Homo sapiens: one gene and its partner. The protein of the gene in region 2 binds, or shares a complex with, the protein of the main gene of each other region. Each region holds a gene or a part of one and is shown on either strand. Other genes may lie near its edges. The genes, in order: FGF19 and KLB.

Region 1 (15,199 bases), on a different chromosome or scaffold from region 2:
CTGGAGGTATTTTGGTTGTCACAACTTGAGGGTTTCTACAGGCATCTAATGGTGGGGGGTGGGGGGGGCACTGTTAAATGCAGGAACGTCTTTCCCCAGGGAAGAGTGCTGAGGGCGAGAGGCCCTCACTTAGGCCGCTGTTCCTTGGTGTTTGTTTCCTGCAGCCAAAAACACTCCTGGCAGAGAGGCCGCCCTAACCACTGAGACTGCTAGAGAGAAGGTGGACTGAGGAAGCCAAGCCCCTAGGCATGAGGAAAGGGCAGGACAGCAGGGCCCAAACCAGCCTCCACCACTAGAGCTGGCTGGCCCAAACCCGCTAACTTCCCACCCGAGCTTTTGGTGTCCAGGGCAGACACACCGAGGGTTTCCTCCCGTGGACGGTGCTGCCCCCCACCAGCCCCTTCCCCACCCTCCCTAACATTCTAGGCGGATAATAGAATGCACCTTTTGATACAAACAAACTCCATTTTAATATACAAAACAAACCTCACTTACATACATAAATATAATTTGGGGGCATAAATAATGTAAGAAAATAAGAGATGTACATATCAAAATAAATTACTCATAAATATCATGTTGGAAAACCAAGTGCTGGGGAAAGGGTTCTAGGTCTTCCCCCGCTGCTTCCACACAGCAAGTTATTGACAAGACTTGGGGTCTTCAAATCTTTTCTTTTCCTGATTTTTGAACAAGAAGTGCAGGTTGACATAAGGTGGGGGGCCTGGGAGGCCCCAATCCATGGGGAGGCATGTGAGGTGGGCAGAGGGCTGGTGGGCTGGGAGATGGAAGCAGGTGACACCGGGACAGCAAGTTATTCTCAGGACAGCATCCATGACAGAACTGGCCTCAGGGGGAATTCTCAAGTTGTCCCAGGGCTGGAGTGGGGCTCCAGGCTTCCCCTACTCCTGAAGCCTGGTGGGCCATGCCTGCTCCAGTCAGTTCTGGCCTGGAGGGATTTGGGAAGGGCAAATGGTCCCTGGAAGTAGAGATATAGATCAATTCCCACATGGGGTTGAGTGAAATTTACCTGCTGTTTTACAGAGTGGATCACCTGTTCCTGAAATTAAAACTACTGCCTGTCTTCTGGCTGCTCCTGGGGAAGTGATGAGAAAAAATTAGAGAATTTCAGCTTGACATAAGAATTTTTCCAAAGGAAGTGAGTTCCCCATCGATGGAGGTATTCAAGCAGAACTGAGACAGTGCAGCAGCTTGTCCAGCAACCTCGAGGGAGCAGAATGGGGGCCCAGGCAGCAGCTGGGCAAGCTACAGGCTTACAATGTTATGATCAGACAAGTCTATTGGCTAGAAACTGGCACTGCCAATGGAAAACTCTGAATATGTACAACTTCTAGATGTTTCTTCCTAAAGCTAAACAGAACGTGGACTCAGGACTGTTCTTGTAGAAGCACGTCCCCCACGCTGCAGGTACCACAGCCCCTGGCAGCAGTGAAGAGGCCCGGGCATGGTCTCAGTTACTTCTCAAAGCTGGGACTCCTCACGGCCTCCAGTCCGGTGACAAGCCCAAATGGGTCCATGCTGTCGGTCTCCAGGGGCGAAGAGAACATGTCAGATTCCAAGTGGCCCCTGAGGTCCTCAGGCTCCTCTGGGACCATGGGCAGCATGGGCAGGAAATGAGAGAGTGGAAGAAAGCCTCTGTTCTTGTACAGCTGCCGCTGTTTGGCACTGCTCAGGGAGACCGGGAGGCGGTGCTTCTCGGATCGGTACACATTGTAGCCATCTGGGCGGATCTCCTCCTCGAAAGCACAGTCTTCCTCCGAGTACTGAAGCTGCAGAGAAAACAGGCAGCTCTGAGCAATCCACAGTGGACAGGGAACACGGGTCCACATGGACGTTTGTGCTACAGACTGTCCCTGGTGGCCACCAGCAGTGACCTTCCACATAAGCATCACTTGCATGTTTTATACATACTTCCTGATGTACACACTGTACGTGTAAGTATATATAAAATATACCTTTATATATGTAAGTATATATAATATATAATGTACTTTAAGGCCAGGCACAGTAGGTCACACCTGTAGTCCCAGCACTTTGGGAGGCCCAGAGCAGATGGATCACCTGAATCCAGGAGTTTGAGACCAGCCTGGGCAACATGGTAAAATTCCATCTTGACAAAAAGTACAAACATTAGCAGGTCATGGAGGTGGGCGCCTGTAGGCCCAGCTATTCGGGAGGCTGAGAGGTGGGAGGATGGGTTGAGGCTGGGTAGTCAAGGCTGCACTGAGCAATGATCATGCCACTGCACTCTAGTCTGGGTGATAGAGCAAGACCCTGTCTCAAAAAAAAACAAAACAAAAAACCCACAACTATATATATACACAGAGAACACACACACATATATAAATGTACTGTAAGTGTAAGCATATATAATATGTACATTATGTTAATATATAACCCATTAATAAATTAAATATACATTTATATACCTTTATAAATTATAATCTTTATATAGATATACATGCACACAGACAAAACTGAGGTTTATTATTTCATATATGTATATTTTATGTATATACTTAATACTACATATACACTCTATATAGACCCAAATAATTTCCACTAAATTACCTCACTTTTTCGAGAGCCTTGTCCTAAGCAATAATATCCATCAACCCACAGGAATGCCGTCTGTGTTTCCCTCACCCTTTACATTACAGACATAACTCCTGGCATTTAAAAAGTTCCTGGGTATTTCATTGGCACTTTGGGAAACACTGATAAACTGGGTTGTCATCTTAGGATAGGTCTTTTAAATAAATTGCGTGTGATCCGATCTGGGTCCCAGATGAAAGCATCTGTTCCCCACCTATCTCAGAAATCACTGTGTGCCTTTATCATTCTAAGGCCTTCTGGTCTGCAGCAGTTCTGAGAACCATCAGCCCCGCTGTCTCCTCCATTCAGTCACCAAGGGCCTTCCAGGCAGGCTGCCAGGAGGCAGATCTCAGCAGCCCCTCCCCCAGGCCAGGCCAGGCCAGGCCGGCGCCCAGCTGGTGGCCGGAAATGTGTGCTGAGGGAAGCCTTGTCTTAGAACATTCATAGTCCACGGGGTTGAGAGGTGCCAGTGGGCAAGTGCCATCCCACACCGGTGTCATTACCCCTTGGCGACCCAGGACAGGCGCAGGCGGGAGCCGGAAGGGCTGGGCAGTAAACACACTGCAGGACGGCCTCAGTCAGGTTCCTGCCTAAGTCTGCAAAGGTCACTGAACTGCAGGTGGGTGACGAGGTACCTGTGCTAATAAGCTCCTGATAAGAGGCTCATTGCAGCAACCCAGGCTCCTGCCGAGCCCACGGATGGCTGGGACAAAGCATCGGACAGCAAGCGTGATTTCTCCCAAACTCCCAAAAATGCCAAATGATCAATAAACAAGGAACACAAAACCGAATGATTGGAGGACCTTCTTCTATTTACTTGGCTTGTCCTTTGGGAGAAATTAGTATCACTTTCTCCATACAGAAAACGAAATGACTTCAAGTTTCTAGAAGAATGTGGCATTTTTATTTAAGAAAGAGGCCAGGCGAGGTGGCTCATGCCTGTAATCCCAGCACTTTGGGCGGCTGAGGCAGGCAGATCGTGATGTCAGGAGTTCGAGACCAGCCTGGCCAGGATGGTGAAACCTCATCTCTACTAAAAATACAAAAAAACTAGCCGGTCATGGTGGCACGGTGCCCGTAATCCCAGCTACTTGGGAGGCTGAGGCAGGAGAATTGCTTGAACCCCGCAGGTGGAGGTTGCAGTGAGCCAAGATCATACCACTGTACTCCAGCCTGGGCGACAGAGCAAGCGAGACTCCGTCTCAAAAAAAAAAAAAAAAAAAAAAAGATCCTCAATTTCTGTTAGACCATGCACAGGGGATCAAGAGGCACAAAGGGGGCTGGGCGCGGTGGCTCACACCTCTAATCCCAAAGCACTTTGGGAGGCCGAGACGGCCGGATCACTTGAGGTCGGGAGTTCAAGACCAGCCTGGCCACCAACATGGTGAAACCCCATCTCTACCCAAAATACAAAAGGTAGCTGGGCTTGGTGGTGGGTACCTGTAATCCCAGCTCCATGGGAGGCTGAGGTAGCAGAAACGCTTGAACCTGGGAGGCACAGGTTGCAGTGAGCCGAGATCTGGCCACTGCATTCCAGCCTGGGCGACAGAGCAAGACTCTGCCAAAAAAAAAAAAAAAAAAAAAAAAAAAAGGCACAGAGGGATTTCAGGTGACCCAACCCCCAATTTGGGCAGAATGGCGGGTTAGGTTGACGTCCCCTGCTGGCCTCCCATCATTAGGAACCCCCACACCCCCTGCCATAGTAAATGTCAAAATTAAAGTTGCAAGGGTGGGTTTGGAGCGGCTCTGGGTGGGAGTCAGCGTCCAGCGTGCCGACCACCCCCTTTCTCTGCAGTCCTCTCACGCAGGACTCCGCCATAAAACCTGAAACAGGCGCTCCGAGTACACGGAGCACGGCAGAGGCACCGAGCAATTTTGAGACTCTAAAATGCTTTGTCCCGCTGTTCACAAAGGAGCTGGTTGGGCCGGAGGCGGCCCCGCCTCTGCATCCTTTCTGGGGTGGGGGCCCCGGGCAGGCGCGGCCACCCCCGCCCTGGCCCCTGCTCCGCCAGGGAGTCCGGGGCTGCGTGTGAGGCCTGCGCGGGCCGAGACCTCACACAGCCTCCTCTGCGCGCGGGGCCGCGGGAGGGGCGCGGGTTCGTTCCTTTGAACTCCCAGCCTTTGTTCCCGGCCACCAGAGCCCCAGCGCTCGTACACTTCCGGCCCCGGGACCTCTGCGGTTACCTGGGCCTTCCCTGCCAGCCCCCACCCCCTGCCCCCACCAGAAAGCGTTTACAGGACAGGTGAGGCCCGCAGGAGGAAAAGCACTCCCCTGGCGCAACATGACTCCAGCGCATCTGCGTCTAAGCCACACCGTGCTCCTGGTAGATTAAAAATTAATTCTAAAAAAAAAATCTCTCCTATCCCAAATGCACTGTTTTCTGCCTTGCTTGACAATTGATTTGTTTTTAAAGGAAAGTTATGGGTAGATCCTCTTTTTTCTTTCCCATTCTTTTTTTCTTCTTTTATACTGGAGGGAGGGAAACGGAGGCGAGGACCACACACGCGCAGGCAGAGGCTGAAAAGGCCCGAGGTGGGTTTTCCTGTTTAATATCAAAGGAGGCCGAATAATGGGTTTCCTCGGTCCGGCTAGGCCGGCCTTTGACTCAATTGGAAATGCAAAGGCAGCTTTTGCCTATTCTCTGGCTGCTGGCTGAGACCCTAAATTTCCGTAGGAAATCGTCGGACATGCACTTAATCGGTCTTTGCAATCTTTCCCTCGAAGTTGCACGCGGGTCTGGGCGGAGGAGGCGAGGAAACCCTGGATTCGAACCAGCGCCTTTCTCTCCTTCAGGCCTCCGCCCGGGGACAGGCGCCGGTCCCCCGCCCCGGCGCATCCGCCCCGTGGGGACACTTACCAGCCCCTGCATCTTGCCGTCGGCGCCCATGCAGAGGTACCGCACGCTGTGCACGCCCTTGATGGCCACGGTCCGCAGAGCGACTGCCTTGATCTCCAGCAAACCTAGGCGCAGGGGAAGCGAGAAGCTGCAGCAAGGACCGCTGGGCCCGCACCACGTGGGTGCGGTCGGTCCACAAGCCTGTGCTTCTCCCTAGCGTCCCGCGCTGTTTGGGGACTAACGGAGGGATCCTAACGTCCAGGTGCCAAAACCTGGGGTTCCCAGGAGTTGAGGGGTCCGCAGGAGCCTAAGGGTGGCAAAGGAAGGAAGGGCGCTGGGGTGGGGCGCGCGCAGCGGGGTGGGGTGCGCGCGGCGGGGCGGGCGGGGGTGCTGGCGGGCACTCACTGTGCGCGCTCTGGCCCCGCGCGCAGTCCACGACGCCGTCGGCACGGATGCGCAGGAAGCAGCTGGAGAGCCCGTGGGGGCCGGAGGTGTACAGGTGCCGCAGGCGGATGGGGTCGCCCCAGCCGTAGTGCACGTGGGGCCCCGCGTCCGAGAAGGCGAGGGGGCGCCCGGCCACGGCCAGCCAGAGGCCGGCCAGGATCCATACGTGGACCACCACACACCCGCTCCGCATGGCACCTCCCTGGGGCTCTCGGCGCAGCTCCGGCGATGGGGGTGCGGGAGGCTGGGCGGCGACCGGGATGCGCTGCGGGGCTGTGAGTGCCGGGTTGGGATGGTCGTGGCCCTAGATCCTGGACGCAGCGCTCCTGCTCTGACGGCGCGGCGGCTCCGGGCCGGCAGCCTTATATAGTAGCGCCTTACGGGCCCCACGGGTAGGTGCCCAAGACACCCGAGCATTTCTTATCGGGATTGCATCAAGCCTCCGCCCCCCGCACACACCCACTCACACCCCGCCTCCGGCCCCAGCCCCAGCCCCCTCCCCGGGCCCGGGCAGGCAGGCGGCGGCTTCTTGTCCCAGCCGGGGTGACCCCGCCCAGGCCGTTCGGATCTGCGGGAGGAGGAGGCCTCGCTTAGCGGCCGGGTTTCGGGGAACTCCTCCCCACCGCGCAGCGGCCCCGAGGTTCTTGGCTGGGAGAGTTTGACTTTGTAAAGCAATCGACAACTGGGGCCCTTCCCCCAGGCCTCAGGCTCCCAGTGGATGCACTCGGCGTGGGGCACTAGCGGGGGCGGGGTCAGGAACCCCGGGGCCAGAGGTTGGGGGGCACCGAGTTTTGCCCCCTTCACCCTCTGTCGGGAAAAGCCTCACCTCGGCCTTAGTGCCCTTCCCCTTAAAAGCCCACTCGCACTCCCTCCCCCGACTTTCGCAGCCCCGCACATCTGACGTCAAAGCCGTCCCGTAGAATTTTCCCCGGCAGTTCCGACAGTCTCAGGTTCTTTCAGCTTCATCTTCTTGCAATTCCTGCCCCGCCCCTTTTATCCGGGTAAATTGCCCCCCGACGGGGGGCCGGGCGCGCTCTCGGCCGGCGGGGAAACAATGGAAGCCGCGCGGACTGTAGGTGGCGCCGCAGCCTCGGCGTCCGCCTGGGCTTTGCGCTCCTGGCCCCGCGCCCCTGCCTGCTCCGCGCTCGCCCCGGCCCCGCGGCTGTGCGCGAGATGCAACCTGAAAGGGGGCACTGGGAAGGAGGCTCTCGGGCAGGGTGGGCGGGCCAGCTGCGGGATTGGTGAACCCCAGCTTCTCGGCTGGAGGGTGGTGGAGGCAGGGGCGCAGGGAGGGAGGCCTGGGCCTCCGTTTCCCGTTTTTTGAGCTGTCTTGTGTCGGGGGTCTGGTTTTTGAGTCCCCGAGTCCCTGCGCACGGGGTCAGGAGGAACAGCACGGTCGGGGAGGTCGAGAGCGCCTTACCTGGTGGGGAGGGGTCGGGAAGGGGCCCAGGAACGGTGATGGGCGCCCCTGGCGTCCGGGCAGGTGCCAGGTGAGGAAAGAAATGGGGGCCGCTCCATGAAGCGGTTCCTGCCAATAAAGAAAACGACATCCAGAGAATACCCAGGCGGGGAATAAAGGGGTCCTCCTACGGGGCTTTGGTTTAACTCTAATTATTTCTTGTTATTCTTCCAAACCCCCAGCTCCTGGATGTGGGGCCCCAGGAGGCTGGTTTTGGGGGCAGAGCCCTCCTGGCCCAGCGCAAAGGCGATGGGGAGGGCAAACAGGAGAGACAGCGAGAGAAATGCCAGGCCTAATGAATTTCAATGAGCAGAGGCCACATTCATTCCCCAGTCAGTGACTGGCGTTAATGACTGAGGGCGCAGCAAATGTCACCAGGAAAGTCTTTACAAAAAGACATCATCCCGAAGGCTTTCTAGACCAGGGACCCCCACGCTGTGTGTCTTGGTTCAGAAAGCCGTGGCTTCTGTTAAATCTAATTACTTCCCCCCTGTGGCTTTAAATCGACGGCGGCTCCTATTAAACTTAATTACCCTCCCCTGCAGCTTTCGTTTTAAAGATCCGTGGTAAATGCGTGATAAATGCTCTTGAGGGCGATGGCAGAGGCTGCACTGGGGGACACGACCCAAACCGGGTGGGGGCGATGGCAGCCTCTGGTTCCACCCCTACCCCTCTGCAGCCCCTTCCAGGGACATGGGGAAGAGAGTGGCTGATGCGATCAGGGAGGTGGGGAAATGAGGAAGGCGGCTGCTGTCCCCCAGCCCCTGTTCTGAGCGCTTCATGGAGGTTCTCAGCTCAAATCTCCACAAGAGCCCCCACAGTATTCTATTCCTCCCTCCCCCATGGAGCAGGAGGGAAATGGCCCCAGAAAAGTGGCCGAGTAACCCAAGGTCGCACACTCTGTTAGTGGTGAAGTTGGAATTTGAACCCAAACAGTGGGGCTCGTAAATCCAGGCTGTGCTGCGTCTTATCCCGGGACAGGGGCTCCGGGGTCAGACCCACTGTAGCATGGATCACACCCGGCCACTCCCTGGGTAGGTCGTGGACCGCTGACCCATTGCCCTCTCAGCTTGCTCTCAGGCTTGTCCTGAGGGTGACAAGGAAGAGGGGACAGAGAGGGCCTGGGATGTAGCACTCATGAAGGTGTTGATGGCAGGCCTTGAGGTCAGCTGTGTGCCGGCCATCTCACAGGCACAGCAATGCTCTGAGAGCTTAGGGGATGGATCCTGCTCATGTGAGGTAGCTGACGGTTACAGAGATGGACTGCCGGGCCTCGAGGGTTTGCCCCAGGTGGGCCAGGCACACGATCTTGGGTGTTTGCTGGGCTCCCTGGTGTGTGTGGTTAGAGGGAGCCAAGCCTGCAGAGGACAAGGCAGTGCTGGCCAGCAAGGGGCTCTCCTGGCGAGAGCAGAGGTGTGGCAAGGGCTGAGGTCCTCCTCCCACTCTGTTCTGTGCACACCGGGACCTCTGAAGCCACCTGTGTGCTGCATTGGGCTGACTTTGCTTTTCAGGTTGTGTTTGATTTGCCCCTGGGTGGCTAAGCCGGCTGAATCGCCCAGGTGGGGTTTCATTCATTGAATGGCATGGGCAATGGGTAGCAGGTAGGGTCCAAGGCACCTGGATGTCCCGCTCACCCATGCAGGGGTATGGGGGTCTCCAGCCCAGGTGTCCAGAAGGGCTTGGCTTGGCTTTGTTCTGGATTTGATGTTAGCTTTTTTTTTTTAATTCATTTTTTATTTTTTTATTTAATTGCCCTGTAGAACCGTAAATCCTTTTTCTGGAGTCTTCCTTCTTCCATCTGAGGGTGTAGAGGTTCCTTCTTCCTGATTATGGCAAATGAGTGATTTCCACCATTTCTAAACCCGTGTCCCAGTGTCTAAGAACATCTTATTCGGCTTCACCTCCAATTTTTACATTATGAAAATCATAGTTTTCCTTTCATTTTACAGTTAGAAATGTATGTTTTGCTGTCAAATGTGCATTCTTCTACATAAGCACTCCCTAGAGCCCCTCCCAAACCCCCTGCTCCCACCTTGTGATTGAAAATTATTTTGTAATTGGAGAAACTTCTGGGTGTGGTAAAAGTCTTTATCAGAAAATAAGAACTGCAGGGTAGCGTGGGACCGAGAGAGCTGTGAACACTGAGGTGATCGAGGCCACGCCCCACAGCTGGTTCCTGGCCAACTGGAGGCTGAGACCCAGGGACTCCTGAATCTCAGCCCAGTATTTTTGCTACAACCTGCTAGAACATGCATTATTTCCCCCAAGACTTTCTGATTCACCAACAGCCATTTCTTCCCCCATACGCATCGTTATTCTGAAATGAGGCCACCCAGCTAGCCCAGAAATTGGCAGAGACTGTGACAGAGTAGAAGGAAGACCTCTTTGAGATTCCATTTCCTCATTTGTAAAACAGCAAAAGGAACGCTAATTTACAGGGTTAATACGAGCATTAGAAAAGACATCCCCATCTATCAAGTGACCAATATTTGTAAGATAGAGACAGCCTGGCACATGTAAAGCACATAACAGAAGGGTAGCTATTGTTACTGTTGTAAATGCTGCTCTCTGGCGATCTTTGCTACATTTATTACTTATTTTAAAATTTAATGGCAACTCTAGAAAAAGATATATAGTGACAAAAAGCTGGATGGAGATCCACTAGAAAAGGGTAAATAGAAGGCTGGGCGTGGTGGCTCATGCCTGTAATCCCAGCACTTTGGGAGGCCAACGCAGGAGCATTGCTTGAACCCAGGAGGCAGAGGTTGCAGTGAGCCGAGATCGCACCACTGTACTCCAGCCTGGGCAACAGAGAGAGACTCTGTCTCAAAAAAAAAAAAAAAAAAAAAAAAAAAAAAAAAGCAGAGAAGGATAAATGGAAGATGAAAATGTTCTCTATCTTTATTGTGGTAGTGAATACACAGGCAATGACATTTATCAAAACTAATAGAGCTGTTCCCTTAAAATTAAGGTGCATTTTTTTCAGAGCAATTTCTATTAAATTCTAAAGTAAATTGTGTCTGAATTTTAAATAAGCATTAATAGATACTTTTTTTCCAGTTGTTTTATTGTGTTGAAACATAAACAACATAAAATTTACCATCCTAACCATTTCTAAATGTACAGTTCAGAGGAATTAATACATTCATAAAGCTGTGTGGATCACCGCCACCATCCATCTCCAGAACTCTTTTCATCTTGAAAAATGAGATTCAGCTGGGTGCGGTGGCTCACTCCTGTAATCCCAGCACTTTGGGAGGCCAAGGTGGGTGGATCACCTGAGGTCAGGAGTTCAAGACCAGCCTGGCCAACATGGTGAAACCCCATCTCTACTAAAAATACAAAAATTAGCTGGGTGTGGTGGCGCATGCTTGCAGTCCCAGCTGCTGTGGAGGCTGAGGTGGAAGGATCGCTTGAACCCAGGGAGCGGAGGTTGCAGTGAGCCAAGATCACACCGCTGCACTCCAACCTGGGCAACAGAGTGATACTGAAAAATAAATAATAATAAAAAAAGTATGTATGTATCTTAAAAAAAAATCATTTGAATTGTAACCTCCTTTCCACCAACTCAGTTGTAAACACTTTCCTTGGGATTAAATATCCTAGCACAGCCTTTGACACCAGCACATCTGAGTGATACAATCTGTTGTCCCCTATTGCTGGACGTTTAGGTTGTTTCCAACGTCCCCTGCCAGACCATGCAGGGGAGAACATTCTTGGAGACGCATCTCGCGCATGTCCGCTCTTGGAATTACTGAGCCCTGTCGTCTCTCCCCCAGGTAGGCCCTGGCCCTGTGTAAAGGGTGGAATTCAGGAAGCTGCCCTGCTTCTGTTCACACAAAGGGCAGCACAGCTTCCTCCAGACATCTGCGGTGAGCCTGAGCACACATGGATGTTCTCAGCTCAAATCTCCGCAAGAGCCCCCATGGTATTCTATTCCCCCTTCCCCATGGAGCAGGAGGGAAATGGGGGCCCCAGAAAAGTGGCCGAGTGACCCAAGGTCGCACACCCTGTTAGTGGTGAAGTTGGAATTTGAACCCAAACAGTGGGGCTTGTAAATCCAGGCTGTGCTGTGTCTTATCCCGGGACAGGGGCTCCTGGTGTGTAAGCACCACCACCAGCAGGCACCATGAGGCATAGCAAAGCTGGAGTCGGAGCCCTCCCTTTACTGCCGGTTCAGAAGGCCCAGGACGTGAGCTCCCCTAGCTGGGAGGGCCTGCTTGTGCTGTGAGCCTTACTTTTCTCACCTGTGAGGACAGGAGCTGACAGAAGTAGCCACAAAGGGTATTTCTGTACGTGAATGCTCTTTTCCCTCTGGTCTCCCTCATCAAAACAGATATGAGTTCCCATCGCGAATGTGTTGAGCTGTCAGAGTAGCAACGTCGTGAAAGAATGCGCCCAGGCTTTGAATGTCAGCTACTGAAAGAAAACAAAAAGTAGCTTAATGAGAAAACATTAACCGTGTTCATGCTGACTTCGTGAAAAACCATAAAGTGAAAATATCGAGGTTGGAAATTCTCAGAAGCCCTGGCCTCTGTCTGCTTCATAAACCTTTCGTGGAGAAGGATGAGTCCCAGACTCCACAAGTGGATGGCTCTTCAAACTTCATGCCCAAAGGGAGGGTCTTTTCTCTCCAAAAGCTCAGCCACCTTTCCACAATGTCTTTTTTCTTTCTTCTGTCCGAGATGGTTAGGAAATCCCAGGACAGGCCTGGCCAGCACCATTTGCTGAGTGCTTGAAATCCTCTGGCCATGGTGGTGGTGGTAGTGATGGCTGACACCAAGTGCCCAGAACTGTCCTGGGCAGTTTACATGCCTCACGGTATTTGGGTCTCATAGCTCCCATTCTAAAGAGGGGCAAAGTGAGGCTCAGAAACTGCTCCTTGCCCAGAGTCACAAATAAAGCCAATAAACAGCAGAGTTGGGATTTGAATGCAGTTCTAGCTGAATTTGAGTCACAAAGCTATTTAATCATTACTCTCTTTTTATTTTTTTAAAAAAGAAGCAAAACCAGGCCAGGTACAGTGGCTCACATCTGTAATCCCAACATTTTGGGAGGCCAAGGCAGGTGGATCACTTGAGCCCAGGAGTTCAAGACCAGCCCGGGGGACATGGCGAAACTCCATTTCTACAGAAAATACAAAAATTAGTCGGGCGTGGTGGCGTGAGTCTGTAGTCCCAGCTACTTGTGATGCTGAGGTGGAAGGATCACTTGAGCCTGGGAGGCAGAGGTTGCAGTGAGCTGTGATCCACCACTGAAAAAAAAAAAAAAAAAAAAAAGGAAAACCCAAACAGCTGCTCTTTCAAAAAGTTAAGAGCCCTGACCAAATTCGGAGCCTCAGCTAGGGGCTTGGCCCTACTCTTCGATTCCTTGGCCCCATGACCTGCCCATGTGCTTCCCAGAGTGGTCACTGGAGACCCTGGGCTGACTCTAGCAAGATAGCCAGAGAGCCCCCACTTCTGAGTGCAGCCCTCAGCTCCGCCTGCTCTGCTGTGTGGTACCTGGACGTCATGTCTTGGGGTGGAAATTGACCCTACATGTCTCCTCTTCAGACAAAGCTCTGTGGAAGTGAGGATACAAGTGCGCAGTTTGCGGGCATGACCCTGGTGTCCTGCACGGAGCCAGCCTGGCACTTGACGCTGCCAAGAAATATTGGATGAATCATTTAAAAGAACTGGAAGGGCCGGGCACGGCGGCTCACACCTGTAATCCCAGCACTCTGGGAGGCCGAGGCGGGTGGATCACTTGAGGTCAGGAGTTTGAGACCAGTCTGGCCAACATGGCGAAACCCCGTCTCTACTAAAAATACAAAAATTAGCCGGGCGTGGTGGTGGGCACCTGTAATCCCAGCTACTTGGGAGGCTGAGGCAGGAGAATCACTTGAACCCGGAAGGCAGAGGTTGCGGTGAGCCGAGATTGAGCCATTGCACTGCAGCCTGGGTGACAGAGCCAGACTCCGTCTCAAAAGAAAAAAAAAAAAAAAGAACTGGAAGGTGTTGACATTGCTGTGCACTCACTGGCCTCCTTGCCCATCCTTTCCTTGTTCATCCCGTCTCTCCTTCCTCCTGCCCTCCCTTGACTTCCATTGCCAAACTGATCATTCGTCCCACCTGCAAACTCATTCCAGACACTTCTGATGGGTCACACATCATGTCGAGAAAATTAGGCCAGGTACAGTGGCTCATACCTGTAATCCCAGCACTTTGGGAGGCCAAGGTGGACAGATCACCTGAGGTCAGGAGTTTGAGACCAGCCTGGCCAACATGGTGAAACCCCGTCTTTACTAAAAAAAAAAAAAAAATGGCCGGGTACGGTGGCTCATACCTGTAATCTCAGCACTTCGAGAGGTCGAGGTAGGCGGATCACGAGGTCAAGAGATTGAGACCATCCTGGCCAACATGGTGAAACCTCGTCTCTACAAAAAATACAAAAATTAGCTGGGCGTGGTGGCGCGTGCCTGTAGTCCCAGCTACTTGGGAGACTGAGGCAGGAGAATCGCTTAAGCCCGGGAGGCGGAGGTTGTAATGAGTCAAGATCACACCACTGCACTTCAGCCTGGCTGATAGAGCAAGACTCTGTCTCCAGAAAAAAAAAAAAAACTTAGCTGGGCATTGTGTCAGGCACCTGTGGTCCCAGCTACACGGGAGGCTGAGGCAGGAGAATCGCTTAAATCTGGGAGACAGAGGCTGCAGTGAGCCGAGATCATGACACTGCACTTCAGCCTGAGTGACAGAGTGAGACTCTGTCTCAAAAAAAAGAAAAGAAAAAGAAAAGGAATTCGAATCTCTTCCAGCCCTGTGGTATCTTAGCAACAGGGCTTCTAGCTGGGCAGAAGGGGTGTGTTTGGGGCAGCAGGGGACGCAGGCAGGGAGGTCCCATATGGGCTGATGTTCCTGTTTCTGCTGAGGGCTGTTTTGGGCTAATGGGGCTTCCATAAACAACAACTTTCTTCAAGGTCCACAGCAGAACACACTCCGGGAACTGACCCCTGCATGCGGTTTCATTTCAGGGGCCGCTTCCAGATGCTGAGTCCCCCACTTGCATGATCACTGTGACTTTGTAAATGCCAGTATTTCTCTCCTATCCGTATCAAGAACACTGATAGGAGAGGAAGTCACCTGCCAGTATCCGGTGGCAGCTCATAGGAGAGGAAGTCACCCGCCAGTATCCGGTGGCAGCTCATAGGAGAGGAAGTCACCTGCCAGTATCCAGCGGCGGCTCATAGGAGAGGAAGTCACCCGCCAGTATCCAGTGGCGGCTCATAGGAGAGGAAGTCACCCGCCAGTATCCCGCGGCTCATAGGGGAGGAAGTCACCCGCCAGTATCTGGTGGCGGGGAGTCAAGACAGAGACTTCCAGTTGAGTCACATTCAGTCTGTTCGCCTCAACTTGGAGGTATCAAGGCCTCACCCCGGGGAGTGGCCTGCAGTTATCCCTGCAGCAAGGCGGAGAGCCAGGTGTTGTTCCGTTTTACAGGTGAGAGGCCCACGAAGCCTGCCTGGCTGTAGGATCCACCAGTGGGTAAGGGGACCATGAGCAGACTCCGAGAGGCCAAGTGCATGGCCTGCGGTCACTCAGCGAGCAGAAGCCTCATGGACAGGGTTTCCCTCCCTGTCCAGCTGCCCCCAGGCCTGGCCAGAGATCAGCAGGCCGGACAGATATTCCCGGAGGCTAAGCTTGTATGAGTCTGGAGGGTGTCACTCCAGCTCATTTGCAATAGATGAGCTCAGAATTCCAGGGTTGGAAAGGACCTTCAAGAGGATTTCCTCAGCCAGGTGTGGCGGCTCACTCCTGTAATCCCAGCAGTTCGCCAGGCCGAGGCAGGAGGATCACTTGAGTCTAGG
Region 2 (15,739 bases):
AGGGACAGTCTTTATTCTCGATATGTGAAAAGCCAAACTAGATGTAATCATGTTGATGATTAAATATTATTTCCTCTTTTAACATTTTAAAAGCACTGTTTTTTTTTTTTTTCTAAAAACAGTATAGGCTGTACATTAATTTTGAGTTTCTGTATGCAACTTACAGATCTGGTGAAGATCTCCTTGAGGCAATTGTGTAAAATAATCATTTTTATGCCCCTCATACTGGTTACATGTCAATGTCCTTGTTCTTTGTGCTTCATGTCTTTAACCAGTTGTCTACTATAGAATAAGTCAGTGGTTTTCAAAGGTGGAGTGAGGGGGAGGAATTTTGACTTCCTGGGGACATTTGGCAAGGTCTGGAGACATTTTTGATTGTCACAACACTGAAAATGGGGGAGCTACTGTCATCTAGTGAGTAGAGTTTAGATGCTGCTGAACTCCTCCATTGCACAGGACAGCCTACCACAGCAAAGAATTATCTGACCCCAAATGTCAATAGTGACCAGGTTTGAGAAATCTTTGTACTATGTAAACAGTATTTATCTATGAAAGATAACATTTTCCCCCTAACCCAATGTGACTAGTAAAAGACAAAGATTTTTAAAGTCATGAAATGGTCAAAACTGTCATGAAAGCTGGCAGTATTTTTTGTTTTATTTTATTTTATTTTATTTATTTTTTTTTTTTCCTGAGACAGGTTTTTGCTGTGTCACCCAGGCTGGAGTGCAGTGGCACAATCATAGCTCCTTGCAGCCTTGACCTCCCGGGCTTAAGTGATCTTCCCACCTCATCCTCCCAAGTAGCTGGGACTACAGGTATGTGCCACCACTCTCAGCTGATTTTTTATTTTTTGTAGAGACAAGGTTTGTCTTGTCTCTACAAAACTATGTTGCTCAGGTTAGTCTTGAACTCCTGGGCTCAAGGGATCTTCTTCCCTCGGTTTCCCAAAGTGCTAGGATTACAGGCAGGAGCAACTCTGCCCCGCTTTGGCAATATTTAGTGGAGTAATAAACAGAATGAGTTATTGTCTCATGAGCAAATTCACCTTCCCAAACCTCTGTGCATGTTTACTCAGAGACTCTCAAATGTTCCATTCTAAAAGGGAAATGTACAAATTTAAATTATTACATGTATTTATTGATTTAAAAATAGAATGAAAACAGACATTACTGCCTTTACTAATGTGAACCCTTGGGGCTTTGCTGCATAGGCCAAATACATTTCTGGGATTGAAAAAACTAAACTTGGGAGAGAGAAATCTTTCCTCTACAAAGGAGAAGATGACACAACCCGAGGAAGAAATGGACGTGAGAGGCTGAAATAAAGGGCCTTCCTGGTCACTGAGCCCATTCATCCCTGTGGTCTGGTTACTGAGCCAGGAAATTGCCCCTTTTTGCTTTAGCCAATTTGAATTAGATTTCTGTAACTTGCCACCAAAAAAGTCCTGACTAATATACCACCCGATTAATATCAGTAATATTTCGACAGTTTGCAATAATGCAATGAAATATGAAGATTGAACTTGAGATTAGTTTTTGATTACAGTATTTAAGACAGAAATCCTAAACCATTCATTTAACCAACATTTACACCTAATATGTACAAATATTCTGTGCTAGGTGCTGAGAACATAAAGGCAAATTTAAAAATTGTCTCTCCTTTGAAAGAACTCTCAGTCTAGCTGGGGAGATGGAAAAGTATCATGTCGTATGAGTGCTATGCTAGAAACAAGCCCATCTTATGGGAGCCAGCAGAAGGGGCACTTAAATCCTAAAGGGGCAAGAATGACTTGGAGGCAGTGACCATCACGAAGTAAAGAGGGCATTTGAGCTAGACAGAGTGGGATAGTTGAGGCTGGGTGGAGAGAAATAGTAAGGAGAGACTGAGACACTGGCAGTAGTGTGTTATGATCGAATATGAAGTGCAAGAGGATGGGAGAGTGGCCAGGAAGGAGGCTGGGAACTGTATCTCAAAGGTCTTGGTGAAAAATTGAGACTTTATCCCCAAAGCTTGGGGGGGCCACTAATGGATTTTACACAGGGGAGCAATATCACGCATATTCAAAATATCACACTGTAAGATGAGGATAATAGTTACCTGGCAAGATTGTTGTAAAGAGTATAGATAATATTTATTTATTTATGTCCTTTTGGAATGTAAATGTTCATAATATTTCTCTTTTTAAAAATATTTTTAAAATTTCAATAGTTTTGGGGTACAAGTGGTTTTTGGTTACACGGATGAATTGTATAACGGTGAAGTCTGAGATTTTAGTGTACTCATCACCAGAGGAGTATACATTGTATCCAATATGCAGTTTTTTTATCCCTTACTCCTCTCCCAGCTTCCCTGTTCTGAGTCTCCAAAGTTGATTATATCCTTCTGTATGTAGGTATATATCATTCTGTATATATAGTCCATTGTATCATTCTTATATAGTGGGAGCTAAGCTATGGGTATGCAGATGCATACATAAGCTCAGTATACCCATAGCTTAGCTCCCACTATATGAGAGAACATATGGCATTTGGTTTTCCATTCCTGAGTTACTTCACTTAGAATACATAGATATTATTTCTTTTTTCTTTAAATAGAGAAGGGGGTCTTGCTATGTTGCCCAGGTTGGTCTCAAACTCATAGGCTCTGGGATTACAGGTATGAGCCACCATGCCAGGCCTAGAGATGATATTTAAAGTGATGATTACCGTGCTTAAAAATGGCCAAGCCAGGGCCAGGAGCAGTGGCTCACACCTGTAATCCCAGCTACTCGGGAGGCTGAGGCGGGAGAATCGCTTGAATCCGGGAGGCGGAGGTTGCAGTGAGCTGAGATCGAGCCACTGCACGCCAGCCTGGGTGACAGAGTGAGACTCTGTCTTAAAAAAAAAAAAATGGCCAAGCCAAAAAATACATCCTCATTCTATTTCAAATGCTGTTAAAAACAGCTTTGACGGGAGACTGAGGCAGGAGAATGGCGTGAACCTGGGAGGCGGAGCTTGCAGTGAGCCGAGATAGCGCCACTGCACTCCAGCCTGGGCGACAGAGCAAGACTCCGTCTCAAAAAAAAAAAAAAAAAAAATCAAAACAAAACAAAACAAAACAAAAAAAACCTTAGTTTTGAGGCCGGGCGCTGTGGGTCGGGAGTTCCAGACCAGCCTGACCAACATGGAGAAACCCCGTCTCTACTAAAAGTACAAAAAATTACCCAGGCGTGGTGGCACTTGCCTGTAATCCCAGCGACTCGGGAGGCTGAGGCTCCCGCTTGAACCCGGGAGGCGGAGGTTGCAGTGAGCCAAGATTGTGCCACTGCACTCCAGGCTGGGCAACAAGAACGAAAACTCCGTCTCAAAACAAAACAAAACAAAAACAAAAACTTAGAGTTGGTTCATCCATTAGTAGGTGTGATTATGGAAAATTTTTACCTGAGTCTTAGACCCGCATTAAGGTACTCCCTACATCTGCAATAAAGTGGAATCTAAATTGCAAGTCAGCCTTGGGACCCTCTGGACCATTCAGGTTTCCTCCAAATGGGAACATTTCAAACCGAGATGGAGTTTTCCAGATCATTCTGGAACGAAAAGGACCCCAATAGCCACTATGAAACCTTTTCTCTATCTGAGAAGTGGGGAATGAAGGGGTCCATACCCCCCCAGAATTCAGTTTTATATTAGGCTTGTGTAGCTCAATAAATGTTTTCGGTCTAAAAACTATTCCTAAAGAATGCTTCTTCTGGGTCACAAGGGGGCAGGAGAAGGAAGAAATACTTCATTGCAACGTAAAATATCAAATTAATGTTTTCTACGTGAAAGTCAAGACAGCGAGGGGACAAGTGGGAAAAACAAGTTCACCTCAGGCTACCAAATCATTGCAAGATTTCTTTAGTGCTATACGTCACTGGGTCATGCAGTGTATTTCACTTTCTGACTGATTTCAAGGACCCCTCACACCATTTATTTAGTCTAGTGATTTAGAACTTTTAAGGCAATACAAACATTATTTGGAAAACACAATAGTTGAAAAACATATCCCTCCATTTAAAATAATAAAATTTATCTCACGATCATAAAGTGCTAATTTTGTGTTAAAGGCAGAGAATATCTCAAATTAGAGGAAAATGAAAACATCTGAAAATATGTCATTTTATCAACTATGTTTGGAAGCAATATCTGTTAAAGCTTTTTGCCTGTTTATTCTTATCAGCCAATTTTAAGGCTTTAATCCTTAAAATACATTTTCATGAAAACTCTAATTGTTGACATTTTTCCAGGTAATGACTTTTCAACAATTTAGAATATTTTTCTTTATACAAAGGTTAAATAAACATATTCATGCATGTATTTGCATAGAAAACTTTAAAAAGAATGTATAAGAAACTATTAACAGTAGCGTCCTTGGCCTGGGATTGTCAGGTGAAGAGAGGGAGAGGGATTTAACTTTTTCACTTTAGATCCTTTGGTACAATGTGATATTTTTATTTTTTATTTATTATTTTTTTGAGACAGAGTTTCACTCTCGCCCAGGCTGGAGTGCAGTGGCGTGATCTCGGCTCACTGTAACCTCTGCCTCCCGGGTTCAAGGGATTCTCCTGCCTCAGCCTCCCGAGTAACTGGGACTATAGGCACGTGCCACGACGCCCAGTTAATTTTTGTGTTTTCAGTAGAGAGGGTTTCACTATGTTGGCGAGGCTGGTCTCAAACTCCTGATCTTGTGATCCACCTGCCTTGGCCTCCCAAAGTGCTGGGATTACAGGCATGAGGCACTGTGCCCGGCCCAATCTGATATTTTTAAATGTACATGAGCATGAATTGTTTTAAAAATTAAAAGGACTGGCTGAGCGCAGTGGCTCACACCTGTAATCCCAGCACTTTGGGAGGCTGAGGCAGGTGGATCATGAGGTCAGGAGTTGGAGACCAGCCTGGCCAACATAGTGAAACCCCTCTCTACTAAAAACACAAAAATTAACTGGGCTGGTGGCATGTGCCTGTAGTACCAGTTACTCAAGAGGCTGAGGCAGGAGAATTGCTTGAACCTGGGAGGTGGAGATTGCAGTGAGCCAAGACTGCGCCATTGCACTCCAGCCTGGGTGACAGAGTGAGACTTTGTCTCAAAAAAAAAAAAAAAGAAAATTAAAAGGACTAAATGAGAGGAATATTTTTCTAACTTTTGTATGCATAATCTTGATAACTGTTAAATACCTATACAATTTCTACCCTTTAAGGTCTTATTTTGTCAAATCACAGTATACCCACACATTAATATGTTCTATATACAACTCTAGTCAAAGATATGCAAATGACCTTGAAATCATAATGCAATCTGTTTACCTCAAGGGCAGATGTATCTGAAACCATAGTACAATGCACATGTGTAATAATCCAGAAAAGTTCAAAAAGAAAAGAAGTGATAGCAGATATTTTTGTATGTACAAATTTAGACATGGAATTATTTTATGTTGCTGTATTTTTTTTCTACTTCTGTATATTTAGCTTTTGATTATTAATAATTAAATTACTTTTTGTAGCACATTATAAAATTATATTGATAAAGTTTTTTCATTTTTAAAATGTAACAGGTGTGCAGAATAATTTATTTTTCCTAAGTAAACTATTTGACTCAAAAAGTTAAATTCGATTCTAGATATTAGCCTCAATGTGAGGCTAAATCTCTTGCAAATTCCTGAGTCTTCTTTTCAAAGCATTCTTAATGAAGACAGTTAGTGTTAATTATGTTGTCATTTAAAAAATCCATGTCCACAACAGCTGTATTTTACTCCTTAACCTTGGGAAAATTATTTAATCTCATTAAGCTTCAGTTTCCTCATCTTTTAAATGGGAAGAATAATAAAACTAGTTCAAAAGGCTGTTAAGAGGATCAACTGTAACGATGCATGTAAAATACTTAATGTAGTCTGTGGTACATAATAAGTACTCAGTAATTATTACCTATTATTTTGCTTGTATTTTCACTATTGTTTTACTAATTTTAACATTTCTCAACATTATCTCTAGCTTTTGAAATATATTGCTTGAAAATTGCTTTAGTAGAGCACATTCTTCCCAGTTCTTATGGGAAGAAATGTGTTTAGCTCCCATAACAATTAATCTTCTCTTTTTTGCTATGTAACACAAATAAAATCAAAAGTGAAGTATATTTAAATTTCTGTATTTAATATGCATGAGTTAGCTAACATTTATTTGGCTTACTTATTTACTTACTTTATTTACTTATTAGCTAAGTTAGCTATACTTAACAACAAATACATATTTGAAATGGTTGTGCCTTAAGATAATTCTGAAATGATTGCATGTTGTCAGAAAAGGGTTCCAACAATTAAATTTATGAAGCACTGTTTTCCCACAGAATGAAAGTAAGCTCATATATTCACACTGTAGTGTATAATGGTAGATTTAAAAATAGCCTCAAAGTGCAACTTTTGAAAAAACTAATTGGATTAATACATTAAAAATACCTTAGATAAATAAAACATACACTAACTTAAATGCAAAATTTGAGGATAGATCTTTTGAATTAGCTTAAAATCAGTTGCCTTGATTTCAGTGAAGAGAATTACTGAGGCAGAAGGTAAATTCTTAAATTCTTAGTGTTTTCTGAAGCTATAAGAAGAAGCTAGCTGTACAGTACCTTGATCAAGTTGTGTCCCACAGTGTAGACAGCTGCTAAATTTCCCTTCTCTCCAGGGGCATGCATACCTGTCCCATACCCATGCCAAGCCACTAGATATGGGTTGTGAATTGTAATCCAATATTTGACACGGTCCCCAAACATCTGGAAACAGTATGTGGCATAGTCATTGAAGATATCTATTATGGTATCATTTTTCCACCCCCCATATTTTTCTTGTAGTGCCAAAGGCAAATCCCAGTGGTATAAAGTAACTATAGGTTCAATGTTTCTAAGCACTAGAGCGTCCAGAAGAGTACTGTAGTACTGCAGACCTTTTGCGTTGGCAACTGTTACTATTCCATCGGGGAAAAGCCTTGGCCAGGAAATTGAAAATTGATAAAAAGAAACTCCTATAAAATCCAGGGCTGATAAGTCTTTTTCCAGAAAAATATAACTGTCACTGGAACCATTCGTGCTGCTGACATTTTTAAGGTGTGTGTGGATGAAATGATCCCATATAGAAGGTCCTTTTCCATCCTTCTTCCAACTCCCTTCCACTTGCAATGCTCCAGTCCCAATACCCCAGAAAAAGTTTTTAGGGAAAGTGTCATAGAGAAACAGCTGACTTTCATTTACCGGAGTAAAATTAGGATTTTTAGACCATATAGCTCTTCCATCTCCAGAGAATCCAGTAACAGCTCGTAGCAGAATAAGTGCTGACAGGATGACAGATCTTTGCAATCCCCCGTTGGACATTGTATTCCTATAGCGTGTGGTTATTTCATCAGTGCTGAAGAAAATCCATTCATTCCCTGGAGATCCTGCCGCACAGCCTGGCTTCATTTGCCACCAACTGCTGGACTGTCTTATCAAAGCTTCAGTAAAAGCTTGTGATTGTAAAGCTCTGTCAATGATTAGCTTGAACTGGGAGACTGAGGATGGGTCATAGAGAGCAACGTAATTTGAGGGAGGTGGCCCTATTGCAGTCACCAACGCGTCTCCTTCTCTCTCATTATGGAAAAAATTAGATGAAAATGCATCGGTGACAAGAGTTTGAATGTGTAACTAACACATATGTAAACACTGGATTAAAATCACATTATTTTCCGTGTAGCCTTTCATATTGACCCAAATCTTTTCTGAATGTTTTGAACATTATTGAATAAGGTATATAGCTTTTCTATTTTTAGAGTTTTTGTGTGGTAATTTTATAATCTCATATATCAAGAAAAATAACATATACAAGTATATAGCATTCCTACATACCAATAGTAAAGAATTAGAAAACACAATAAGAAATTACACTTCTCCACAAAATTATAACGCATCTAAGAACAATCTTAATAAATGTTACCTATTTTAGGAAAATTGCAAAAATGTATTGGTAGATTTGAGAGAAGACTTGAATGAGAAAATATAGCACTTTGTGGATGGAAAAATGAAATACTTTTCAATTTAATACATTTAACTTAACTAAAATCCTCTAATCTCTAATTTTATTTTTTATTTTATTTATTTAACTTAACTAAAATTCTCTAATCTCTAATTTTTTAATTAATTAATTAATTTTTAATAAGAGTCTTGCTTTGTAGCCTAGGCTGGAGTGCAGTGGTGTCATCACAGCTCACCGCAGCCTCAACTTCCCAGGCTTAAGCAATCCTCCCTCCTCAGCCTCCAAGTAGCTGGGACAACAGGCACATGCCACCATGCCCAGCTGATTTTTGATTTTTTGGTAGAGGTGGGGTCTAGCTATGTCCCCCAGGCTGGTCCTGAACTCCTGGGCTCAAACAGCCCTTCTGCCTCGGCCTCCTAAAGTGCTTGGGATTATAGGTGTGAGCCACCATGCCTGGCCTAATCCCAAATTTTAGTTCAAGAAAATTATTACGAAAGGCCAGGCACAGTGATTCATGGCTATAATCCCACCACTTTGGGAGGCCAAGGCAGGCAGATCACTTGGGGTCAGGAGTTTGAGACCAGCCTAGCCAACATGTTGAAACCCCGTCTCTATTAAAAATACAATTAGCTGGGCACGGTGGTGGGCACCTGTAATCCCAGCTACCTGGGAGGCTGAGGCAGGAGAATCTCTTGAACCTGGGACGTGGAGGTTGTAGTGAGCTGAGATCGCACCACCGCACTCCAGCCTGGGCAACAGAGCAAGACTCGGTCTCAAAATAAAAAAAAAAAAAAAAAGAGAAAATTATTATGAAAGTTCCCTTGAAGAATAGGCAATATTTATTTTTAAAAAGGAAAGAAAAACCTGAAAAAGAAAATAGCAAAGGCATAGACTACCTTCAGCATGATTCTGGAATAAAGATAAACATACAGAAAGAAATACATGCACATACAGAAAGAAATATTGTACCAAATCGATAGCCTCCAAATAACCTGTAAAAAATTTAATGTTTTACAGCCTGGGGAACATAATAAGGCCCCATCTCTACAAAAAAAATTAAAAACTAACCGGGTGTGGTTGTGCATGCCTGTAGTCCCAGCACTTTAGAAGGCCAAGGTGGGAGGATTGCTTTGAGCCCAAGAGGTCAAGACTGTAGTGAGCCATGATTGCACCACTGCACTCCAGCCTGGGTGACAGAATGAGACTCTGTCTCAAAAAATAATAAATAAATAAATAAATAAATGTTTTAAATATTTGAAGTATCACATATGAATGAGAAGCAGAGTGGTTAATAGTTTGGTCTCTGTGCCAGATGAGGTGGCTCACACCTATAATCCCAGCTACTTAGGAGGCTAAGTGGGGAGGACTGCTTGAGGCCAGGAGTTTTGAGACCAGCCTGGGCAATATAGTGAGACTATCCTCACCTCTAAAAAAAGATGATTGAGGCCCGGCACAGTGGTTCGCACCTGTAATCCCAGCACTTTGGGAGTCCGAGGCGGCTGGATCACCTGAGATCAGGAGTTCGAGACCAGCCTGACCAACATGGTGAAACCCCATCTCTACTAAAAATACAAAATTAGCTGGGCATGGTGGCACATGCCTGTAATCCCAGTTACTCGGGAGGCTGAGGCAGAAGAATTGCCTGATCCCGGGAGGTGGAGGTTGCAGTGAGCCGAGATCGCGCCATTGCACTCCAGCCTAGGCAACAAGAGCAAAACTCTGTCTAAAAAAAAAAAAAAAAAAAAAAAAAAAAAAAAAAAAAAAAGAGAGATTGAGCCTCTAGAGGCAGACTGCCTGAGTTTAAATATAGCTGTGTAACTTGCCCTCAGTTTCCTCTTTAAGAAAAGGCATAATAATAATATGCACTTCATGGATTATTGTGAGAATTAAACGAGTTAATACACTGAACCAAATGGTTTTCTCTGGAATATAGAAACGAATGAGCCAGTACATGTAAGGCACTTGGAACAGAGACTGACACATAGTAAGTTATGTGCTAATATTATTTTTGTGTGAAAGGGAAAGATTATTCAGGACATGATGCCAGGATTTAGCATAAAAGACAATTTGTTCTGGCTCCTGCCCACATTTTTAGCTTCACTTCTCTCAGTTGACTAAGGGGTACACAGCCTGCTAACTTGTAGCCCTGTACCTTGGTATGTGTGCTCTCTGCACAGAGTATGTTTCTCCCTTCATCTAGCTCATGTCTATCTTTTTTTTTTTTTTTTTTTGAGACGGAGTCTCACTCTGTCTGCCAGGCTGGAGTGCAGTGGCGGGATCTCGGCTCACTGCAAGCTCCGCCTCCCAGGTTCACTCCATTCTCCTGCCTCAGCCTCCTGAGTAGCTGGGACTACCGGCGCCCGCCACCACGCCTGGCTAGTTTTTTGTATTTTTAGTAGAGACGGGGTTTCACCGTGTTAGCCAGGATGGTCTCGATCTCCTAACCTCGTGATCCGACCGTCTCGGCCTCCCAAAGTGCTGGGATTACAGGCGTGAGCCACAGCGCCCGGCCGTCTTTTTTTTTTTTTTTTTTTTTTTAACTTTTAAGTTCAGGGACACGTGCAAGTTTGTTACATACGTAAACTTGTGTTATGGGTGTTTGCTGTATGGATTATTTCAGCAGGCAGGTATTAAGCCTAGTACTCATTAGTTTTTTTTTCCTGATCCTCTCCTTCTTCCGACCCTCCACCCTCTGATAGGCCCCAGTGTGTTATTTCCCTCTATGTGTCCAGGTGTTCTCATCATTTAGCTCCCACTTATAAGTGAGAACCTGCGGTATTTGGTCTTCTGTTCCTGCATTAGTAAGGCCTTTCTGACTCCCTATGACTCCCTAGCCTGATTGGATTTAGATGGATCTTCTGTTTTCCCATGGCAGCCCATGTTTTCTCTATTATGACACACAATAAATCAGCTAACCACACAATAAATGTATCTGTATCCTCTGTTTGAGTGTAAGTTTTCTCTCTCTCTCTCTGTTTCTCTCTCTCTCTCTCTTTTTTAAAAACCAAAACAGGGACCATGATTGGTTCCCTGTTGATTGTCTGTGGCCCAGCATGGTACTTGACATATAGCAGTCACTAAAGTATTTACTGAATGAATGAGAGTATCTATAGTAGGCTGGGCATGAGGGCCCACACCTGTAATCCCTGCACTTTGGGAGGCTGAGGCAGGAGGATCGCTTGAGTTCAGGTGTTCAAGACTAGCCTGGGCAACATAGTGAGAATTCATCTCTACTAAGAAAAAAAAAGTAGCTATAGTAGACTATGTATACCTCTATCACTGCATTTATCACATAATCCTGGAGTTGTTTGTCTCCTCCACCACACTGTAAGAATATCTCCTATCTAAATGTTTATAATTGCTTATCAGAGTAAATGATTAATAATTATCTATTGAATGAATGGAGTTGGTACATTACTATTTATGAAAATAAAATTTTAAATGCAATATCTTAGATCCTCACAAATATATTTAATTCAAAAATGTATAACCACAGAAATGGTTAAGATGGTACATTTCATATTACTTGATTTTACCACAATTTAAAAAATATAGCCACAGAAAATTAAAGAAAACAGAAGTAAATATTAAATTATGTAAATGTGTAGATTATATATATTATTCTATTTACATATGATGATATATAAATAATTTATAATTAAAATATAAAAAATAAAATTTAAAGGCAAATAACAAACTTGGAAAATGTCAAAGCAAATCTAGAAGGCAAATGGCCAAAGTAAGGCAAATGGCCATAAGTAATTCATGCAAATCAACAAGAAAGCCACTAAATCTCTAACAGATAAATGGCCAAACAACATGAATTTAAAAATACACAAAAGAGGAAATGCAACTAGTGAAAAATGTGGCTAATAAAAAATTAAACCATGAGTAATTAGAAACATACATAAAAAGAGGTATATAATATTTAATCTTTTTTTTTTTTTTTTTTGAGATGGAGTCTTGATCTGTCACCCAGGCTGGAGTGCAGTGGCACGATCTAGGCTCACTGCAACCTCTACCTCCCAGGTTCAAGTGATTCTCCTGCCTCAGCCTCCCGAGTAGCTGGGATTACAGGTGTCTGCCACCACTCCCGGCTAAGTTTTGTATTTTTAGTAGAGACAGGGTTTCACCATGTTGGCCAGGCTGGTCTCGAACTCCTGACCTCAGGTGATCTGCCTGCCTTGGCCTCCCAAAGTGCTGGGATTACAGGCATGAGCCACCGTGCCTGGTCAATATTTTATCTTATAAAATTAGCAAAAATAAAAATGATAAGTGATGAAAACCAGTGTTGATTAGATTGTTGATTGCAATGTAAGTTTGCACAATACTCATGAAAAGTATATATGTGTGTGTATGTATATATATATATATATATATATATTTTTTTTTTTTTTTTTTTTTTTTTTTTAAAGATAGAGTGTTGCTCTGTCGCCCAGGCTGGAATGCAGTGACGTGATCTCAGCTCACTTCAACCTCTGGCTCCTGGGTTCAACCAATTCTCCTGCCTCAGCCTCTCAAGTAGCTGGGATTATTTAAACGCATACCATCACAGTTGGCTATTTTTGTTTGTTTGTTTTTGAGACAGAGTCTCGCTCTGTCACCCAGGCTGGAATGCAGTGACGTGATCTCGGCTCACTGCAACCTCCACCTCCCAGGTTCAAGTGATTCTCCTGCCTCAGGAGAATTGTTATATTTTTAGTAGAGATGGGATTTCACTGTGTTGGCCAGGCTGGTTTTGAACACCTGACCTCAAGTGATCCACCTGCTTCAGCCCCCCAAAGTACTGGGATTACAAGCCTGAGCCACTGTGTCCGACCACATGGAAAGTAATTTTCCAATATACCATGAACCTAAAATTTTTTGATTCAAGAATTTCTGAAATATATTGTAATGAATTGTTTCTAAATATATAAAGTCCTCCATGCAAAAATATTTTTATAGCAATATTATTTATAACAGAGGAAAATTATAAATAATTTAAAGATCCATCTATAGGGGAATACTTATCTAAGGCATGGAATATTCATTTGAATATTCATGAAATGTTGTAGAGTCAGTAACATTTTCAGAGAATATATAGTAGCATTAAAATACTTAAAAAACCATTAGAACAATAACCACATATAGAAATTATAAGAAAATGCCCACATTTTGCCATATTGTGTTTGGACGGTGAGCTAAGGGTTATAGTTATTTTTCTTCTTTTGTATATTTAATCTGATTTTTTAACTTTTAATAACAAAAATGGGCCAGTGCAGTGGCTCATGCCTGTAATCCCAGCACTTTGGGAAGCTGAGGCAGGTGGATCACCTGAGGTTGGGAGTTCGAGACCAGCCTGGCCAACATGGTGAGACCCCCCCATCTCTACTAAAAATACAAAAATTAGCCAGGCATGGTGGTGTGCACCTGTAGTCCCAGCTACTTGGGAGGCTGAGGCAGAAGAATCGTTTGAACCTTGGAGGCAGAGGTTGCAGTGAGCTGAGATCGTGCCGCTGCATTCCAGCCTGGACGACAGAGTGAGACTCTGTCTCAAAACAACAACAACAACAAAACCCAAAAATGAACATTAAAAGAATACAAATAGTTGATATTAGATGTAAAAGTTTATTGAAACCCAGGCGTGGCGGTGTACACTTATAGTCCTAGCTACTTGGGAGGCTTAGGCAAGAGGATTGTATGAGCAAGGAGTTCGAGGCTTTAGTGCAGTATAATTGCGCCTGTGACTCGCCACGGCACTCCAGCCTGGACAACATAGTAAGACCTTGCCTCTTAAAAATAAAGTCTATTGGAGAAACTAGATACTTTCCTACTAAGATTAGGAATAAGACAAGGATGTCTGTTCTCATCACCTCTATTCAACATTACGCTGGAAGTTGTAGCTAATGCAGTAAAACAACAGCAACAAAAGAAATAAAACATACAGAAAGGGAAGCAACGAACAAAACTGTGTTTGTTCACAGATGATAATGATTGTCTATGTAAAAACTTCTAAAGAACCAACCAAAGAATCCTGGCACTAATAAGTGATTACAGCAAGGATGCAAGATACAAGATTTTTTTTTTTTGGTAAAAACAAAATGTGTTTTTTTTAATTAAAAAGTATGAAGTCTGCCACTAAACTCTCGAAGCAACCCTTTTTTCTAATCCCCTTCTTGTGTCAAAGAATGTGTTGCAGTTGATTACTTTGTGGTGGTTTCCAAATGGGCAGGTGGCAAGTTCTCTTGGATTTCAGCTTCTACAGTTATCCAAAATCAGCGTCAGCTGAGCTATGCTCCCTCTGAAGGCTCTGAGGGAGAACCCTTCCTTGAGTCTTCTGGTGGCTCTTGACATTCTTTGGCTTGTGGCAACATGATTTTAATTTCTGCTTGTTTCACATGGCGTTTTTTTAGACAGAGTCTTGCTCTGTCGCCCAGGCTGGAGTGCAGTGGCATGATCTCAGCTCGCTGCAACCTCCACCTCCCAGGTTCATGCCATTCTCCTGCCTCAGCCTCCCGAGTAGCTGGGACTACAGGTGCATGCTACCACACCTGGCTAATTTTTTGTATTTTTAGTAAAGACGGGGTTTCACCATGTTAGCCACGATGGTCTCGAACTCCTGACCTCCTGATCTGCTTGCCTCGGCCTCCCAAAGTGCTGGGATTACAGGTGTGAGACACCACGCCTGGCCTTTTTTTTTTTTTTTTTTTTTTTTGAGATGAAGTCTTGCTCTGTTGCCCAGGCTGGAGTCTGGAGTGCAGTGGCACAATCTCAGTTCACTGCAACCACCATATCCCAGGTTCAAGCGATTCTCCTGCTGCAGCCTCCCGAGCAGCTGGGACTCAGGCATGAGCCACCATGCCTAGCTAATTTTTATTTTTAGTAGAGATGGGGCTTCACCATGTTGGCCAGGCTGGTCTCCAACTCCTGACTTCAGGTGATCCACCTGCCTTGGCCTTCCAAAGTGCCGGGATTATAGGCGTGAGTCACTGTGGCTGGCCTCACATGGCCTTCTTTGTGTCTTTTCCTCTTCTTGTTTTTCCTTTTTCTTTCTTTTTTTTTTCTTCAGAGAAAGGGTGTCACTCTTGCCCAAGCTGAAGACAAATAAAGAATGCTTCACAAATCTTTTTTTTTTTTTCAGAGATAGGGTGTCACTCTTGCCCAAGCTGAAGACACATAAAGAATGCTTCACAACTCTATCCTTGCACAGAGGCTATGCTAATCTTCTCTGTATCATTCCAATTTTAGTAAATCTGTTTCCAAAGTGAGCACAAGATGCAGGATTAATACACAAGAGTCAATTGTTTTCTTATATGCCAGCAATGAACGATTGAAATTTGAAATTAAAAAGACAAAATCCAGTCTGGATAACATGGTGAGACCCCACCTCTACAAAAAATAAAAATAAAAAATTAGCTGGACATGGTGGTGCACACTTGCGGTCCTATCTACTAGGGAGGCTAAAGTGGGAGGATCACTTGAGCCTGGGAAGTTGAGGCTGCAGTGAGCCATGACTGTGCCACCAAACTCCAGCCTGGGTGACAGAGTGAGATTTTCTCAAAAAAGGAAAAAAAGAAGCTTCTCAACAAAGGCTAAGTTTTAAAATATGTACTCTAGCTGGGCGAGGTGGCTCATGCCTGTAATCCCAGCACTTTGGGAGGCCGAGGGGAGTGGATCATGAGATCAGGAGTTCAAGACTAGCCTGGCCAATATGGTGAAACCCCATCTCTACTAAAAATATAA

Evidence for each region.
Region 1: the proteins of KLB (region 2) and FGF19 are in contact, whole or in part, in a crystal structure (PDB 6NFJ), measured with the Homo sapiens proteins. Residues at the interface, in NP_783864.1 of Homo sapiens: Phe379, Lys380, Val392, Leu394, Trp419, Phe420, Thr421, Asp422, Val425, Thr431, Tyr434, Met435, Asn438, Tyr643, Glu693, Arg696, His743, Asn824, Phe826, Met832, Gln848, Phe849, Leu850, Gln851, Ile853, Leu862, Phe931, Phe942; in NP_005108.1 of Homo sapiens: Leu192, Thr194, Asp195, Ser196, Met197, Pro199, Phe200, Leu202, Val203, Thr204, Ser211, Pro212, Ser213.

Annotation. Positions count from the first base shown.
Region 1 is NC_000011.10:69,697,787-69,712,985, forward strand, and holds FGF19 (fibroblast growth factor 19 precursor), read right to left. Parts: upstream 6,237-15,199; 5' UTR 6,091-6,236; coding exon 5,859-6,090; intron 5,579-5,858; coding exon 5,475-5,578; intron 1,791-5,474; coding exon 1,476-1,790; 3' UTR 452-1,475; downstream 1-451. UniProt on the Homo sapiens protein: Involved in the suppression of bile acid biosynthesis through down-regulation of CYP7A1 expression, following positive regulation of the JNK and ERK1/2 cascades. Stimulates glucose uptake in adipocytes. Activity requires the presence of KLB and FGFR4.
Region 2 is NC_000004.12:39,398,678-39,414,416, reverse strand, and holds the start of KLB (beta-klotho), read right to left. Parts: upstream 7,488-15,739; 5' UTR 7,468-7,487; coding exon 6,643-7,467; intron 2,508-6,642; exon of another isoform or gene 2,443-2,507; intron 1-2,442.